2 separate regions of the Homo sapiens genome follow, and region 1 is linked to region 2. The links come from fine-mapping of genetic effects on gene expression. A gene starts in region 2. The other region holds a variant in brackets. All regions are shown on one strand. Distances are between the middles of the regions.

The links. PIP is the estimated chance that this variant, and not a neighbour inherited with it, causes the effect.
Region 1: its variant is fine-mapped to the expression of N4BP2 in whole blood (INTERVAL, PIP above 0.99).

Annotation. Positions count from the first base shown.
Region 1 is chr4:39,996,783-40,005,184 of GRCh38, forward strand. No RefSeq gene overlaps it. Among named protein-coding and RNA genes, the nearest start is that of PDS5A, 23 kb to the left of the region's middle. RefSeq lists enhancers at 2,053-2,557, 3,195-3,708, 3,709-4,224, 4,225-4,738. The variant TAGAA/T (reference allele first, on the strand shown) is at 3,842.
Region 2 is chr4:40,052,639-40,060,850 of GRCh38, forward strand. N4BP2 (NEDD4 binding protein 2) reads left to right here and starts at 4,212. Exons shown (of 18, transcript NM_018177.6): 1 at 4,212-4,392. It also overlaps the pseudogene LOC344967. RefSeq lists silencers at 3,424-3,633, 3,974-4,433, 4,484-4,833 and enhancers at 5,024-5,073, 5,174-5,273.

The DNA of each region.
Region 1 (8,402 bases), 56 kb before region 2:
GTTGATCTCATGATCCGCCTGCCTCAGCCTCCCAAAGTGCTGGTATTACAGGCGTGAGCCACCGCGCCTGGCCAGAATCAAAGTATTTTACCCCAAAACATGTTTCTTTGGCGTATTTTAAAATGGCCCTGCAAAGCTGTTCTTTGTGGGGGAAATTTGCATCTGTAAAGGATCTCTATTAACGTAGCTATATCTTTTTCCTCCAGACACTCCCAATGCTAAAGAGATTAACTACGATCTGAACAGAAAACATTTGTCATCTATTGTCTCTAAGGGGAGTCACTATAAGACTTCCAAAGAACTTTGGTCTCCACAATCTTTATCTTACCCTGAACATTCCCTTTCTATCAATCTCAAATCTTTAGTCAAACTCGACCAATTGTTAACCAGAAAATGTTCAAATTCACCTATAGCCTGTAAGCGCCCCCTCCCACCCCTTTGAGTTGTCCCCCGTTTCTGGACCATAGCAATGTATTTCTTTTTCTTTCTTTCTTTCCTTTTTTTTTTTTTTGGACACAGAGTCTCCTTCTGTCCCCCAGGCTAGAGTGCAGTGAACTCACTGCAACCTCTGCCTCCTGGATTCAAGGGATTCCCCTGCCTCAGCCTCCTGCGCAGCTGGGACTACAGGTGTGTGCCACCACGCCTGGCTAATTGAGACTATCTTTTCATTCTCTATATGGAAAATAATATTATAAAATTGTTGCCCTATGAGAAGATGACCAAAGATCACCAAATTTTTGGAAAATGAGAAGATGGAAACATGGATTCTTTCATTTGACTGTTGGCTTAATCCATAAATATTTATTAGTTGCCCACTATATTTTCTTTTTTTTCTTTTCTTTTTTTTTTTTTTTTTTTTTTTGATATGGAATCTTGTTCTGTTGTCCAGGCTGGAGTGCCATGGCAATGTCTCAGCTCATTGCAACCTCTGCCTCTCAGGCTCAAGAGATTCTCCTGCCTCAGCCTGCCAAGTAGCTGGGATTACAGGTGCCCGCCACCACGCCCGGCTAGTTTTTTTTTTTGAGATGGAGTCTTGCTCTGTCGCCCAGGTTAGAGTGCAGTGGCACAATCTTGGCTCACTGCAACCTCCACTTCCTGGGTTCAAGCAATTCTCCTGCCTCAGCCTCCTGAGTAGCTGGGATTACAGGCCCCCACCACCACACCTGGCTAATTTTTGTATTTTTAGTAGAGATGGGGTTTCACAGTCTTGGCCAGGCTGGTCTCGAACTCCTGACATCAGGTGATCCACCTGCCTTGGCCTCCCAAAGTGGTGGGATTACAGGCTTGAGCCACTGTGCCCGGCCGCCCACTATACTTTCAAAAATGCTGACAGAGGTTGGGAGTAGAACACTAAATAGATGTAAATAGTCCTGCACATCAAGGAATTCACAGTCTAAGGTGGAATAGGCCCCTAACAAGTAAACTTACCAATTATTACTTATTTATAATTAGTATAATTATGACAAAAAATAAGTGCAAGAGAGCTAACCAGAAAGATTCCTTGAAAAACAGGATGTCTAAATTGGGGTAGTAATCCAGATTAAAAGGGGAAGAAAGAATAACCTATTTTGGGGGAATAGCAGAACAAAAGGCTCTGAGGTAGGAAAGTACTTGTTAACTTCAAAGAACAAAAAAATAAAAAAATAAAAAAAAAGGCCGGGCACAGTGGCTCACGCCTGTAATCCCAGCACTTTGGGAGGCCGAGGCAGGCAGATCACGAGGTCAGGAGATCGAGACCATCCTGGCTAATACGGTGAAACCCCGTCTCTACTAAAAATACAAAAAAAAAAAAAATTAGCTGGGCGTGGTGGCGGGCGCCTGTAGTCCCAGCTACTCAGGAGGCTGAGGCAGGAGAATGGCGTGAACCCGGGAGGCGGAGCTTGCAGTGAGCCGATATCGCGCCACTGCATTCCAGCCTGGGAGACAGAACGAGGCTCTGTTTCAAAAAAAAAAAAAAAAAAAAAAAAAAAAAAAAAGCTAGCGTAGCTACTGTGAAAATAAATTTAAAATCTAGCATGTTGGAACTGTAAATTATTTTGAGCCTTAAAGGAGAGAGATTATAAGGCCTGAATCATGTGACAGGCAGCTGTTACCTAGGCAACTAGAAACTTTGTTTCTCTGATTATAGATTATTCTTATTCCTTATCTACATTGTTTTTAAAATACTGCAAAGGACTAAAAGGGCCAGGGCAGACCTCTTCCCTCTTCACAGTTAATCTTCATTATAGATTAACTTCCCTCTTACTTTTCTCACACAAAGACTTCATGGCTATCACATCCTCTTAAGATGGAATGTTAAGTACATTCTTTTAAATTGGAAAGGTAATGAAAACTAGCACAAAGAAAAGAAAACAGGCTGGGAGTGGTGGCTCATGCCTGTAATCCCAACACTTTGGGAGGCCAGGGTGGGCGGATCACTTGAGGCCAAGAGTTCCAGACTAGCCTGGCCAATACGGTGAAACTCCGTCTCTACTGAAAATACAAATATTTGCTGGGTGTGGTGGCAGACCACCTGTGGTCCCAGCTACTTGGGAGGTTAAGGCAGGAGAATTGCTTGAACCTGGGAAACAGAGGTTGGAGTGAGCCAAGTTTGCACCAGTGCATTCCAGCCTGGGCAACAGAGTGAGACTTTGTCTAAAGAAAAAAAAAAAAAGAAAAGCGGCCGGGCGCAGTGGCTCACGCCTGTAATCCCAGCACTTTGGGAGGCCGAGGCAGGCGGATCACGAGGTCAGGAGATCGAGACCATCTTGGCTAACATGGTGAAACCCCGTTTCTACTAAAAATACAAAAAATTAGCCAGGCGCGGTGGCAGGCGCCTGTAGTCCTAGCTACTCAGGAGACTGAGACAGGAGAATGGCTTGAACCCGGGAGGCGGAGCTTGCAGGGAGTCGAGATCGCGCCACTGCACTCCAGCCGCCTGGGCGACGAAGCGAGACTCCGTCTCAAAAAAAAAAAAAAAAAAAAGAAAAGCAAGAAAAAAGAAAACAAGCCATATGGGAAAAAAAGTAAACTATAACTAATTAAATTGTTGTAATTCATAAACCAGGCTAGTATATAAAATGTTATAATCCTACTAAACTTGTTTTCTTCTGTCTTTGTAAGAAGGAATTTAAAGGCAGGGTGCAGTGGCTCATGCTTGTAATCTCAGTACTTTGGGAGGCCAAGGCAGGAGGATCTTGTGGGCCTGGGAGTTTGACACCAGCCTGGGCAATATAGTAAGATCTCATCTCTTAAAAAAAATTAAAAACTGGCCAGGCGCGGTGGCTCACGCCTGTAATCCCAGCACTTTGGGAGGCTGAGGCAGGAGGATCACGTGAGATCAGGAGTTTGAGACCAGCCTGGCCAACATGGGAAAACCCCATCTCTACTAAAAATACAAAAAATTAGTGGGGCATGGCAGCAGGCGCCTGTAATCCCAGCTACTTGGGAGGCTGAGGCAGGAGAATCACTTGAACGCGGGGGTGGAGTTTTCGGTGAGCCAAAATCGTGCCACTGCACTCCAGCTTGGGCGACAGAGCAAGACTCTGTCTCAAAAAATAAAATAAGGCCGTGCGCAGTGGCTCATGTCTGTAATCCCAGCACTTTGGGAGGCCGAGGCAGGTGGATCATCTGAAGTCAGGAGTTCGAGACCAGCCTGGCCAACATGGTGAAACCCCGTCTTAACCAGGTGTGTTGGAGCGTGCCTGTAATCCCAGCTGAGGCTGGGGCAGGAGAATCGCTTGAAGCCGGGAGGCGGCGGTTGCAGTGAGCAAAGATTGCACCATTGCACTCTAGCCTCAGCAACAGGGCGAGATGTTGTCTCCAAAAAAAATAAATAAATAAAATTAAAATTAAAGAAAAA[TAGAA/T]AGAAAGAAACTTAACTTTTAACTTTAGAACACTGACCCCATTTTCCTGTAGCCTTTGTCTCCCAAGTGGCTATTTCCAATTTTTTGCTCGAATAAAGTCTTTAAGGTGGATTCTGATCCTTTTGATTATTTCAGGTTGACACTAGTGTGCCATGAGCAATGGGAAAGTGGTGAATGAATCCAACAAGTTAATTTTGCCTGTTCTGAAACTTCATACTGTCATCCTTCAGTATCTGCTGGGGATTGGTTCCCAGAGCTGCATGGACACGAAATATCCTCGCATGCTCAACTTCCTTATATAAGAGGCCTAGTATTTGCATATACTAGATGTACCTCCTCCCATATCCTTTTTTCTGTTTTTTTTTTTTTTTTTTTTTTGGAGACGGAGTCTCACTTGGTCCCCAGGGTGGAGTGCAGTGGCGCAAAATCGACTCACTGCAACCTCCACCTCCTGAGTTCAAGGAATTCTCCTGTCTCAGCCTCCTGAGTAACTGGGATTACAGGCACCCGCCACTACACCCAGCTAATTTTTGTATTTAGTAGAGGTGGTGTTTTGCTATATTAGCCAGGCTGGTCTCTAACTCCTGACCTCAAGTGATCCATGTGCCTTGGCCTCCCAAAGTGCTGGGATTACAGGAATGAGCTACCATGCCTGGCCCCTGTCATAGATTTTAAATCAAATTTAGGTTACTTATAATAACAAATACAATGCAAATACTATTTAAATAGTTGCTATACTGTATTGAGTTTTATTTGTATTTTTTAAAATTGTTTTTCTAAACAATCTTTTTTTTGCCTTGCTATTGAGCTGTATTTTTTTTTTAATTTTCCTTTAAATACAATATTTAGGCCTGGCATGGTGGCTCACGCCTGTCATCCCAGCACTTTGGGAGTTCGAGGCAGGTAGATCACTTGAGGTCACGAGTTGGACACTGGCTTGGGCAACATGGCAAAACCCTGTCTCAACTAACAATACAAAAATTAGCCGGATGTGGTGGTGCACGCCTGTAATCCCAGCTACTCAGGAGACTGAGGCACCAGAATCTCTTGAATCCCAGAGGCAGAGGTTGTGTTGAGCCAAGACGGCACCACTGCACTCCAGCAGGCCATCAGAGGGAGACTGGGCGACAGAAGGAGACCCTCTCTAAATAAATAAATGAAGATTACACATTTTTTTTTTTTTTGAGATGGAGTCTCGCTCTGTCCCCCAGGCTGGAGTGCAGTGGCATGATATCAGCTCACTACAACCTCCGCCTCCCGGGTTCAAGCAATTCTCCTGCCTCAGCCTCCCGAGTAGCTGGGACTACAGGCACGTGCCACCACTCCCGGCTAATTTTTTGTATTTTTAGTAGAGACAGGGTTTCACTGTGTTAGCCAGGATGGTCTCGATCTCCTGACCCCGTGATCCGCCCACCTCAGCCTCCCAAAGTGCTGGGATTACAGGTGTGAGCCAAAGCACCAGGCCAGATTAAAGATTTTTTAAAATTTAAATGTACATTTATTTATTTATTTTATTTTTTTTTGAGACGGAGTCTGGCTCTGTCGCCCAGGCTGGAGTGCAGTGGCGTGATCTCGACTCATTGCAAGCTCCGCCTCCCAGGTTCACGCCATTCTCCTGCCTCAGCCTCCCCAGTAGCTGGGACTACAGGAGCCCGCCGCCACGCCCAGCTAAGTTTTTGTATTTTTAGTAGAGACGGGGTTTCACTGTGTTAGCCAGGATGGTCTCAATCTCCTGACCTCGTGATCCACCCGCCTAGGCCTCCCAAAGTGCTGGGATTACAGGTGTGAGCCACTGCGCCTGGCCTTTACGTTTACATTTAAACTTTAACTTTAATTTTTTGAGACAGGGTCTTGCTCTGTCACCCAGGCTGGAGTGCAGTGGTGTGATCACGGCTCTGTGCAGCCTCAACTTCCCAGGCTCCAGTGATCTTACCACCTCAGCCTCCCCAGTAGCTGGGACCACAGGCTCAGGCCACCACGACTGGCTACTTTTTGTATTTTTTGTAGAGATGGGTTTTCACCATGTTGCCCAGGCTGGTCTCAAAACTCCTGGGGTCAAGCAATCCACATGCTTCAGCCTCCCAAAATGCTGGGGTTACAGGCCTGAGCCACCATGCCCAACTGCTTTGTTTTTATTTCCTGAATTTTTTTTTTTTTGAGACGGAGTCTCGCTCTTGTTGCTCAGGCTGGAGTGCTATGGCATGATTTGAGCTCACTGCAGCCTCTGCCTCCTGGGTCCAAGCGATTCTGCTGCCTCAGCCTCCCAAGTACCTGGGATTACAGGCATGCGCCACCACGCCTGGCTAATTTTGTATTTTTAGTACAGACGGGTTTTCTCCACATTGGTCAGGCTGGTCTGAAACTCCTGACCTCAGGTGATCTGCCTGCCTAGGCCTCCCAAAGTTCTGGGATTACAGGCATGAGCCACCTCACCTGGCCTGAATATTTTGTATTTGTGGTTGGTTGAATCCATGAATGACGAACCTATGGATAAGGAGAGCCGACAGGATAAGTGAAATTTAAAGAGTATACAACATATATGCTTGTGTGTAAGGCTTTTAAAACTTAGAATAATGTGGGCCGGGCCTGGTGGCTTAGGCCTGTAATCCTAGCACTGTGGGAGGCCGATTTACGGGGATCACCTGAGGTCAGGAATTCGAGACCAGCCTGGCCAACATGGTGAAACCCCATCTCTACTAAAAATTACAAAAAAATTATCTGGGTGTGGTGGTGTGCGTCCGTAATCCCAGCTACTTGGGAGGCTGAGGCAGGAGAATTACTTGAACCTGGGAGATGGAGGTTGCAGTGAGCTGAGATCACACCATTGCACTCCAGCCTGGGCGACAGGGCAAGACTCTGTCTCAAAAAAAACAAAAACAAAAACTTAGCATAATGTTTTCAGATTTCATCCATGCTGTTGTATTTGTAAGCATTTGTTCCTGAGCATTATTTTATTGTAAGGATATACCACGATCTATTTATCTATTCACGGGTTGATGGACATTTGGGTTATTTCCAGATTTTGGCCATTGTGAATAGAGCTGCAATGAACATTCTTGTATAAGAGATGTGAGATTTTTAGTCCACTGTTTTCCCCACCTCACTGCAGAGTAAAAGCAAGAATATACTCTTTGTTATACAGCAATTTTAATAAAAGAGCTAGGAATAGTTTAATACCTATCTGATCCTTTCATTGACCTCATGAAAGCACTTGGGTTCTAGCAACTGCAGGTAAAAAGAGCTGGGTCAAGTAATTCAGCACGGCCATAGCATCACCCTGGCCTGAGTCCATATCACCAAAATTTGATATATGAATCACACTTTGAGATGGAAGGTGTCCAGATACCAAAGGGTCCTTGTTGATGCTTGGAGGTGGGGAATTGATCTTGTCTATACCCTCAAGTTTAATAAAGAATTCCTAACTGCAGAAGAGATTCTTTATCTGCTGCCAAATAGTCTTAATCCTACTTCCTCTTTCCTACTTCCCCCACAGGACTGACCTCAAGCAAAGATCTGTAACTCTAGCCTTACTGTGCAAGCCCATGGCACTTTTAGTATATCTGCATGTTCAGCAGAAGCTAGATATGTCCCTGCTTTGCAACAACTGGTAATGGTGAGTCGGCTGTGTAAGGTCAAGTGCTACTCCCATATGCATGGAATGCTTTCTGATGATCACAACTGTAGTCACTTTAAATTGAATTACAACACTGTACAAATATGATAGTATTAAGAATATCAGTCTTCAGTGAATTTTTCATATTTCTCTCTCTATATAAACAAAGACAGTATTTTTAAACTTTTTTTTTTAGACAAGGTCTTGTTCCATTGCCTAGGCTAGAGTGCAGTGGCGTGATCACAGCTCACTACAGCCACCACCTCCCAGGCCCAAGCAATCCTCACACCTCAGCCTCCCAAGTAGCTGGGACCACAGGTGCACACCACCACGTCCAGCTAATTTTTTTTTTTTTTTTTGAGACCGAGTCTCGCGCTGTCAGCAGGCTGGAGTGCAACCTCTGCCTCCCGGGTTCAATCGATTATGCTGCCTCAGCCTCCTGAGTAGCTGGGAACAGGTGTGCGCCACCACGCCCAGCTAATTTTTGTATTTTTAGTAGAGATGGGGTTTCACCATGTTGGCCAGGATGGTCTCGATCTCTTGACCTCGTGATCCACCCAGCCCATTTTTTTTCTTTTTTTTTTTTTGAGACAGAGTTTCACTCTTGTTGCCCAGGCTGGAGTGCAGTGGCATGATCTCAGCTCACTGCAACCTCCGCCTCCCGGGTTCAAACGATTCTCCGGCCTCAGCCTCCCGCATAGCTGGGATTACAGGTGCCCGCCACCATACCCGGCTAATTTTTGTATTTTTAATAGAGACCGGGTTTCGCCATATTGGGCAGGCTAGTCTAGAACTCCTCACCTCAGGTGATCCACACACCTCGGTCTCCCAAAGTGCTGGGATTACAGGCCTGAGCCACCGCACCTGGCCACATCCAGTTAATTTTTACATTGTTTTTGTAGAAATGGGAACTCTCCATGTTGCCCAGGCTGAAAACTTTTTTT
Region 2 (8,212 bases):
CTTTTTTTTTTTGAGATGGAGTCTCACTCTGTCACCCAGGCTGGAGTGCAATGGCACGATCTTGGCTCACTGCAACCTCCACCTCCCGGATTCAAGCCATTCTCCTGCCTCAGGCTCCTGAGTAGCTGGGACTACAGGCAAGAGCCACCACACTCAGCTAATTTTTGTATTTTTGGTAGAAACGGGGTTTCAGCATGTTAGCCAGGCTGGTCTCCATCTCCTGACATCGTGATCCGCCCGCCTTGGCCTCCCAAAGTGCTGGGATTACAGGTGTGAGCCACTGCGCCTGGTCAACAATACTATTCTTAGTTGGGAATGAAAACAGTGTCATTAGCCATTATGTAGAAGAGGAAAAAATCCTGACACAGATTTTCTTGATTTGCCATATGTCTTGTCATAGAGTGATGCTCACTTATTCTTTCACTCAGTAAACATTCATGGAGTGTTTATATTGCACAAGGCTGGGAGTCTGACAATGAGGAATACAAGGCTGAATGGGAAACTTCAAGGCATTGATGACTTAGTAAGGGAGATTATAAACACATGAATAATTAAGTGGAATGCTTCAAGTCATAATCCAAGTATAGGAATACAAAGGTGGCATAGATTATTAATATTTTTGGTTGGAAGGAAATCATACCTATGTTCTAAACATAAACACAGACAATCATGTTTAGAATTTAGCTGTTACATAGACCAAAGTTGGACTTAGGTAAATATAAAAGGTTTACTTTTGACGACTTGGCAGTTTTTTTTTTTTTTTTTACAAAAATCCAAGACATTTCCCAAAATATAAACTTTTTTTTTTTTTTTTTCTTTTTTTTTTTGAGACGGTGTCTGGCTCTGTCGCCCAGGCTGGAGTGCAGTGACACAATCTTGGCTCACTGCAAGCTCCGCCTCCCGGATTCACACCATTCTCCTGCCTCAGCCTCCCGAGTAGCTGGGACTACAGGCGCCCGCCACCACGCCCAGCTAATTTTTTGTATTTTTAGTAGAGACGGGGTTTCACCGTGTTAGCCAGGATGGTCTCCATCACCTGACCTCGTGATCCGCCTGCCTCGGCCTCCCAAAGTGCTGGGATTACAGGCGTGAGCCACTGCGCCCGGCCCAAAATATAAACTTTAGTCTTTCCTTAAAGGTAAGTTTTTAATCTAAAATGCCAGGATTCATTTTAATGTATTAAGTAGTAGACATTTTACCATTCCTCAGATTTATCTGGCATTTTAGATATATTGTCACATAATTCTAACAAGACCAATTGTAATAAAACCAACTGGAAGACTGAAGAGAATGTGAGCAGGTGTGGCACCCACAAGATAGTCAATAATTCTTTTTTTGAGATGGAGTCTTGCTCTGTTGCCCAGGCTGGAGTGCAGTGCCGCAATCTCGGCCCACTGCAACCTCAGCCTCCCCGGTTCAAGCGATTCTCTTACCTCAGCCTCCCGAGTAGGTGGGACCATAGGTGTATGCCACCACGCCCAGCTACTTTTTGTATTTTTAGTAGAGACGGGGTTTCACTGTATTGGCCAGGATGGTCTCAATTTCCTGATCTCGTGATCCCATCCGCCTGCCTCAGCCTCCCAAAGTGCTGGGATTACAGGCGTGAGCCACTGTGCCAGGCCCTATTCTTAAATGTCTTCTTTGAAATTTAAAGAGACACGGCCCGGTGCGGTGGCTCACGCCTTTAATTCCAGCACTTTGAGAGGCCGAGGTGGGAGGATCACCTGAGGTCAGGAGTTAGAGGCCAGCCTGGACAACACAGAGAAACCCTTCCTCTACTAAAAATATAAAAATTGGCTGGGTTTGGTGGCAGACGCCTGCAATTCCAGCTATTCGGGGGGCTGAGGCACGAGAATCACTTGAACTCGGGAGGCGTTAAGTTGAAGTGAGCTGAGACTGTGCCACTGCACTCCAGCCTGGGCAACAGAGCAACTCTAGTCACCGCCCCCCCGCCGCCCCAAAAAAAAAAGAAATTTAAAGGGACATGAACTTCAATGAGAACGAGCATGATAACCAAAACCTTTATCCCAGATACTAATCTAATGCTGATTGATGCTTCACCCTTTAAAAGACGTGTTGTACTTTTCCCATTGGCTTAGAATTTGAACCAATAAGAAAGGAGGAAATCTTTATAAATATTCACAACCGAAGGCTGATACTGCGAATGTTGAGTGAAGATTGCTTTGTTCTTCATTCCAGTCTCACTTTCAGAACTTTATGGTGTTGATGTTCTTCTTATTGCCATAGTAAACAAACTTTAAAAACATTCAGCTTGGGTGTTGTCTTTGTGGCTTGAAATATATTTTCCAATGTTAAGAAGAGTTTATTTCTTATTGTTCTGACTTAAGATTTGATGAATCCTTAACAGATGTTCAAAGGAAAATAATTTAAATGCTAGTTTTTATTATCATGGTGAACATATTTCAAAAACAAAATATTAATTTCCTCGACATCTTTCAAGTTTATAATTACTAGGGTTCTTTCATTTCTAAAGTGGCATATATTACAGTTTTTAGTCTCTTATAATGGTTGTTTAGAGGCAGAGTTAATGTTAGCTTCTCAGCAACAGCTATTTATCTCTTGAGATTCTGGGTTATTACAATTTTTTGTTTTTGAAATTTAATAAAAGCATTAAGGGGTTTTTGTATAGTGATTTTTTTTTAAGGATGAACATGAAGTCTGTGATTTAACACTGGGACTCGAGACCTCTAAATACAAAATTCATACAAAAGGAAAAATTCCCCTATTTTTCTATATGGATGGTTTCATCAGAAAATTTATCTTCTTGAGTTCTCTCCTTATATATTACTAGTTTCTTGAAAAAGCACTACAACGTTCTCATTGTGAATAAGTGTTCCAGTTAGACCTAAACGACAAAAACCACTTGCACTTGCCCCAAATTTACACTCTGTTTAAAGCAACTGCCATAACAACCAACAATGTATCTTCGATGCAAAGGGACACTTTGTCATGAGGTTATTTCGCTTCTCTATTCTGGGAAAAACCACTGCAAGTGGAATGAAAAGTAACCGCAAAGGGAGGGGACGGAGGAAGTAAAAAACAGGCAAAACCACCACCACTACCATCACCACCACCACCACCAACCAGAAAGCAAAGGTGAAAAATTTGCGTACCCTGAAAACACTAAACATTTCACATCAGAACCCAGAACAAATAAACCAGGGAAAGCAGAGTTGAGAGAAAAAAAATGGTGCAGGCTTGGGGACGGACTCATACTACAGCGGTCGCAAGAGGGAAGAGCACGTCTTTGCTTTTTCTTGGCATCCGAAAACTCAAGCTCGAACTGGGGGCAAAGGCCAGCGGCTGCGGTTCCACCGGCTAAGGCGCACACATTCCCCGAGCTCAGACCGCACGCTGGCAGGGCCGATGGGGCTGGGCAGCCTCCCTCCACCCCGTGGCAGTCGCCTACCCCTTTGTCTCCCCGTGGGGCTCCGAGGCCGCGCGCCCGGAAGCCCCCCGCGGGAGGGCCGCGCGCGAGAAGGCGGGTTCCCGTGCCCGCCGCAGCGGCCACGGCCCTAGTCAGGCAATGCCGAGGCCGGTCGCTCGCCTCGCCGTCCCTCCCAACTTGCAGCCTGGACCCCGCGCGCGTCAGGGCTCGTCCCAGCTCTGCTTTCCTTTCTCCCCTCACCTCGCGAGGCCGACCTTGTGTTTGTTTTGTTTTTTGGGGCTCGGGAGAGTGCCGAGGGCTAGAAACAGCTGTGGTTTACCGCGCCGCTTATTTTGGCAAAAATTCCGGGCCTGTTGCAATGTTCCCCAGCGCCAAACAGCTCCCGCCTTCCCCCCAAGCAGAACCCGACACTCGAAGAAGGGCTTGCTCCTCCAGGGACCCCCTGATAAGAAAAGTGGGGACCACGGCCCGCTCTCGGGCGAGACTTGGGGGGTGGGCGACCGGAAGCAGCCGAACCGGCCGGGCAGGGCTTGCTCTCCAACGGGAGAGCGGGAGCGGGAGAGGTGGGAGCGCCCGCGGGCTCAAGTCCCCCGGGCCGCCGCGCCGAGGCGGAGCTCGGGGACGAAGCAGAGGTCGTGGCGGACAGCCGGCGGGCTTGGGGGGGGGCGGTGGGCGGCGATCCACCTGGGCGACGTGGCAGCCATTGCCGGCGCCTCGAGACCCCTCCCCACCCGGCCGCCCACCCGCCCTCTCGCGGCGGGCTTCTGCGCGGCTGCTCTTCCCCGGCCGGACGGAGAGCGGCAGTGTCTCCCCGCCGGGCGCGCTCGCCGTGTCTCCCCCGCGGCCGCAGCTGCTTGCTAGCCTTGCGCGGCGCGGGAGAGCGCAGTGGCGCCGGCGGGAAAGGGCTGCGGACCTGCGGCGCCGCGTTGTGCGTTCGACGACGCGGCACCGGCTTCGACGCCCTCTGCCCGCTCCAGAAGCAGGTAAAGGCGGCGGGTGGGAGGCAGGGAGGCGGGTCCAAGGTGAGGGCCCTGGAGGTTAGGGGTCCCGGGGCTCCGAGCCGAAGCGGAGGGCCTGAAGCAGCGGCGGGCGGCGCGGCGAATGAACCCCCAAGCCCTGAATGTGGGGCCCGGCGCGGGCCGCCTCCGATCTGACCCGCGGGCCCGGCTGCCCGGACGGAAGGGAAGTGAGGCGTCGGCGAGAGGCGGGCCCTGGCGCTCAGCCCGAGGCCGGGCGAAGGCGGGGGCCGCGGCCGCTTCCTTGGCCTCCGAGTGCCTGGCGGGCCTCCAGGCCCCAGACACACCCCTCTCGACCCCCCGAGGTTTCCTCCCAGATCTGTTCCCGCCGGGACCTGACCTTGCGCCCCTCCAGGCGCCTTAGGTGTTTGCCAGGCGGAGCCTTCTGGGAACTTCAGGCCACCTTCCTGAGCACATAGTCCTAGCAGAGCCGTTTATTTACTCAGTTCAAGTCCAGACACACAGCCACTCACACGTTCGGATTTTGGAGACTGCGGGGAGACTTTCCCCTCCCCGGCATTTGTGTGTCTTTGGCCCTCGTCCCGCCTCCCCTGCCCCCATCTGCAACTTTGTCCCTCAATGGGACCCTTCTAGAGCCCCTCTCTCATCGGGACTCTCTCTAAGCCGTCCGTTTGGAAATTCATCCTCAATAGAGTGAGTCATCTTAGCGGGGGCACAGTTTATCTCTCATGCGCTTTTGGTTAAAATAGTTTTTTTTTTCCCTCCGAAAGAGAGCTAGAGTAATAGAATGTAGATGACAGGTCAGTGTCAGTGTTGGCTTCAAAGGCTCTTCCTTTCGGCGGCAGTCTTTGTAACTAGGATCTGATATTTGTGGCACGGACAGGTTTGTACACATTCTCGCCATGCAGTGGTTGTAATGTCTCCATGGCACAGTTCTGGCTTGAAGGCAGGATTGGCTGCTTTTTCTACTCGACATCTTTGAGCCAATCAGCAAGGGCTGCTTGCCTGGAGACTGGTTAACTCAGTAAAGGTGGCCATTGGTTGAGCTCCTAGAAGAAAATCCTGGAGATGAACCTAGCCTCTCAGAAAACAATGACTGATTTGCAGCTGTATTAAAAAAATGTTTTCTTTTAATCCCAACATCAGCCTTTTCACTCCGTTTTTATTACTTCCAGTGTTTTTCTTTCAAACACCAGCTGTCTTTTGTAACTCGTTTTAACTCTCATCCTTTAATTTTAACTAAAAGACGCGCTTTAGGAAATGTAAACATCGTGTGTTCTGTGTTTTGATAAACGTGGTTCCATCTGCCTTTCTAACATTGTTTACTGCTAAAGGTCAGAAATAAACAGTTTTGAGTTTCGCTGCCAGGACCTTTTATTATTTAAGTGCCGTGCTAGGATGGGGGGTAGGAGCGAGGGGCTGTAGTGGTGGACATGGTGGGAAGAATAGGAAATAAATGGCTGCTCTTTTGCAAGGAGGCTACAATTTAGTTAATGAAAAAAGACTAACCTGTAAAACAATAAAGAATAAAGCAGTTGAAATCAGCACGCAGTACGTACGAATGCCAGTTTGTGTACTTGTTGACTTTAGTTAATTTGAAGGGGAGATAGAAGTACTGTATTTCATAGAAAAAGTGGGCTTAAGTTATGGTAGAGGCATGTTTTTTCCTTCATTAAAGTATATTAAAGTAGGCATAGTATCTTGTATGTACACAGTAGAAGCTAAATATTATCACTAGTTGCATGTTTTTTTTTTAGTATTTATTTTAAATCTAAATACTGTTACATAGTTGCATCTTATTTATTTATTTTTTTGAGACAAGGTCTGGCCGTATCGCCAAGGCTGGAGTGCAGTGGCACTATCTCAGCTCACTGCAACGTCTGCCTCCTGGGCTCAAGCCATCCTCCCACCTCGTCCCCTAGAGTAGCTGGGACTAGAGGCGAAAGCCACTACGCCCGGCTAATTTTTGTATTTTTTGTAGAGAGGAGGTTTCGCCATGTTGCCCAGGCTGGTCTCAAACCCCTGAGCTCAAGCAATCCAACTGCCTCCGCCTCCCAAAGTGCTGGGATTACAGGAGTGACCACCACGCCCGCCCGGCCGTTTTAAAACGCTGATTATTTTCCTTTTAAAATCTCCCTTTTCATCATGATTAGCCATGATTATGCATGTTTTTTGATATGCAAAGCAGCAACCATTTATTAGTTAATGAATTTCAGAAAAATAGCTATCTACCTTCTTTGCTTTCCTTTCAGCTTTTTATATGCAAAATCATATTGTAAGTCTTGGGAAGAATCAGTTGTCTATTAAATGCCTTTAGAAGTAGTTTATGTTAGGAATTTAAGAAGAGATTGAGCATTTTTTATGTATGTATGTATGTATGTATTTTGAGACAGAGCCTCACTCTGTCGCCCAGGCTGGAGTGCAGTGGCGCTATCTTGTCTCAGCCTCTGGAGTAGCTGGGATTACAGGTGCTCAACACCACACCTGGCTAACTTCTGTATTTTTAGTAGGGATGGGTTTTTGTCATGTTGGTGAGGCTGGTCTGTAACTCCTGGCCTCAAGTGATCCGCCCGCTTTGGCCTCCCAAAGTGCTAGGATTACAGACATGAGCCACCCCGCCTGGCCTTAGATTGAACACTTTTTTGATACCTACCTTGCCTGATAATGAGTAAGCATACATCAAGCCATGTATCATTATCAACCTCATTGCCCTCGTCCTCATAGTAATGAAGTGGCTTATGTGTATGTACACACACATGCACACCAGGTGCTGTTTTAAGCACTTTGCATATGTGATTGTATTTAATTCTTACAACTCTGAGATTTGCACTATTCTTACAGGGGAGGAGACAGAGACTGAGAAGTATTAAGAAAGTTGCTGAAAGTTACCCGACTAGTGTGTGGGAGTGTTATGTATGTATCAGGTAGGTTTCAGTCAAACTTAGATCTTTGTGACCCAAAACCTTATTCTTTTTTTTTTTTCTTTTTTTAAAGAGACAGGGTCTCACTATGTTGCTCAGGCTGCTCTCGAACTCCTGAGCTCAAGCAGTCCTCCTGCCTCAGCCTCTCAAGGCGCTGAGATTACAGGCGTGAGCCACTGTGCCTGCGCCTTGGGAAGAGTATTTTACTTTCTTACCTATCTCAGCATTGCCCTCCAGAAATTATTTTATTAGAACTGTACATCTAGATTGTGGTTAATCAATTCTATCTGAGCTCTCATACTTCATTTATTTTTTTTGAGATGGAGTCTCACTGTGTTGCCCAGGCTGGAGTGTGATGGTGCCATCTTGGCTCACTGCAACCTCTGCCTCCCAGGTTCAAGCAATTCTCCTGCCTCAGCCTCCCAAGTAGCTAGGATTACAGGTGCACACGATCACGCCCGGCTAATGTTTTTATTTTGAGTAGTGATGGGGTTACACCTTGTTGGTCAGGCTGGTCGTGAACTCCTGACCTCAGGTGATCCACCCACCTTGCCCTCCCAAAGTGCTGGGATTACAGGCATGAGCCACTGTGCCCGGCCGCACATACTTTAAAAATTAAAAGAGGCTTTAATAAATTTATGTGGCTAAGTAGCTAGATTTTTTTTTTTTTTTTTTGAGACAGGGTCTCCCTCTGTTGTCCAGGTTGGAGTGCAGTGGCATGATTATAGCTCACTGTAGCCTTGAATTCTTGGGCTCAAGGGATCCTCTTGCAACAGCCTCCCGAGTAGCTGGGAGTATAGGCACATACCGCTGTGCCTGGCTCATTTTTAAAATTTTTTTGTAGAGACAGGGTCTCGCTGTGTTGCTTAGGCTGGTCACAAACTTGTGGGCTCAAGCAGTCTTCT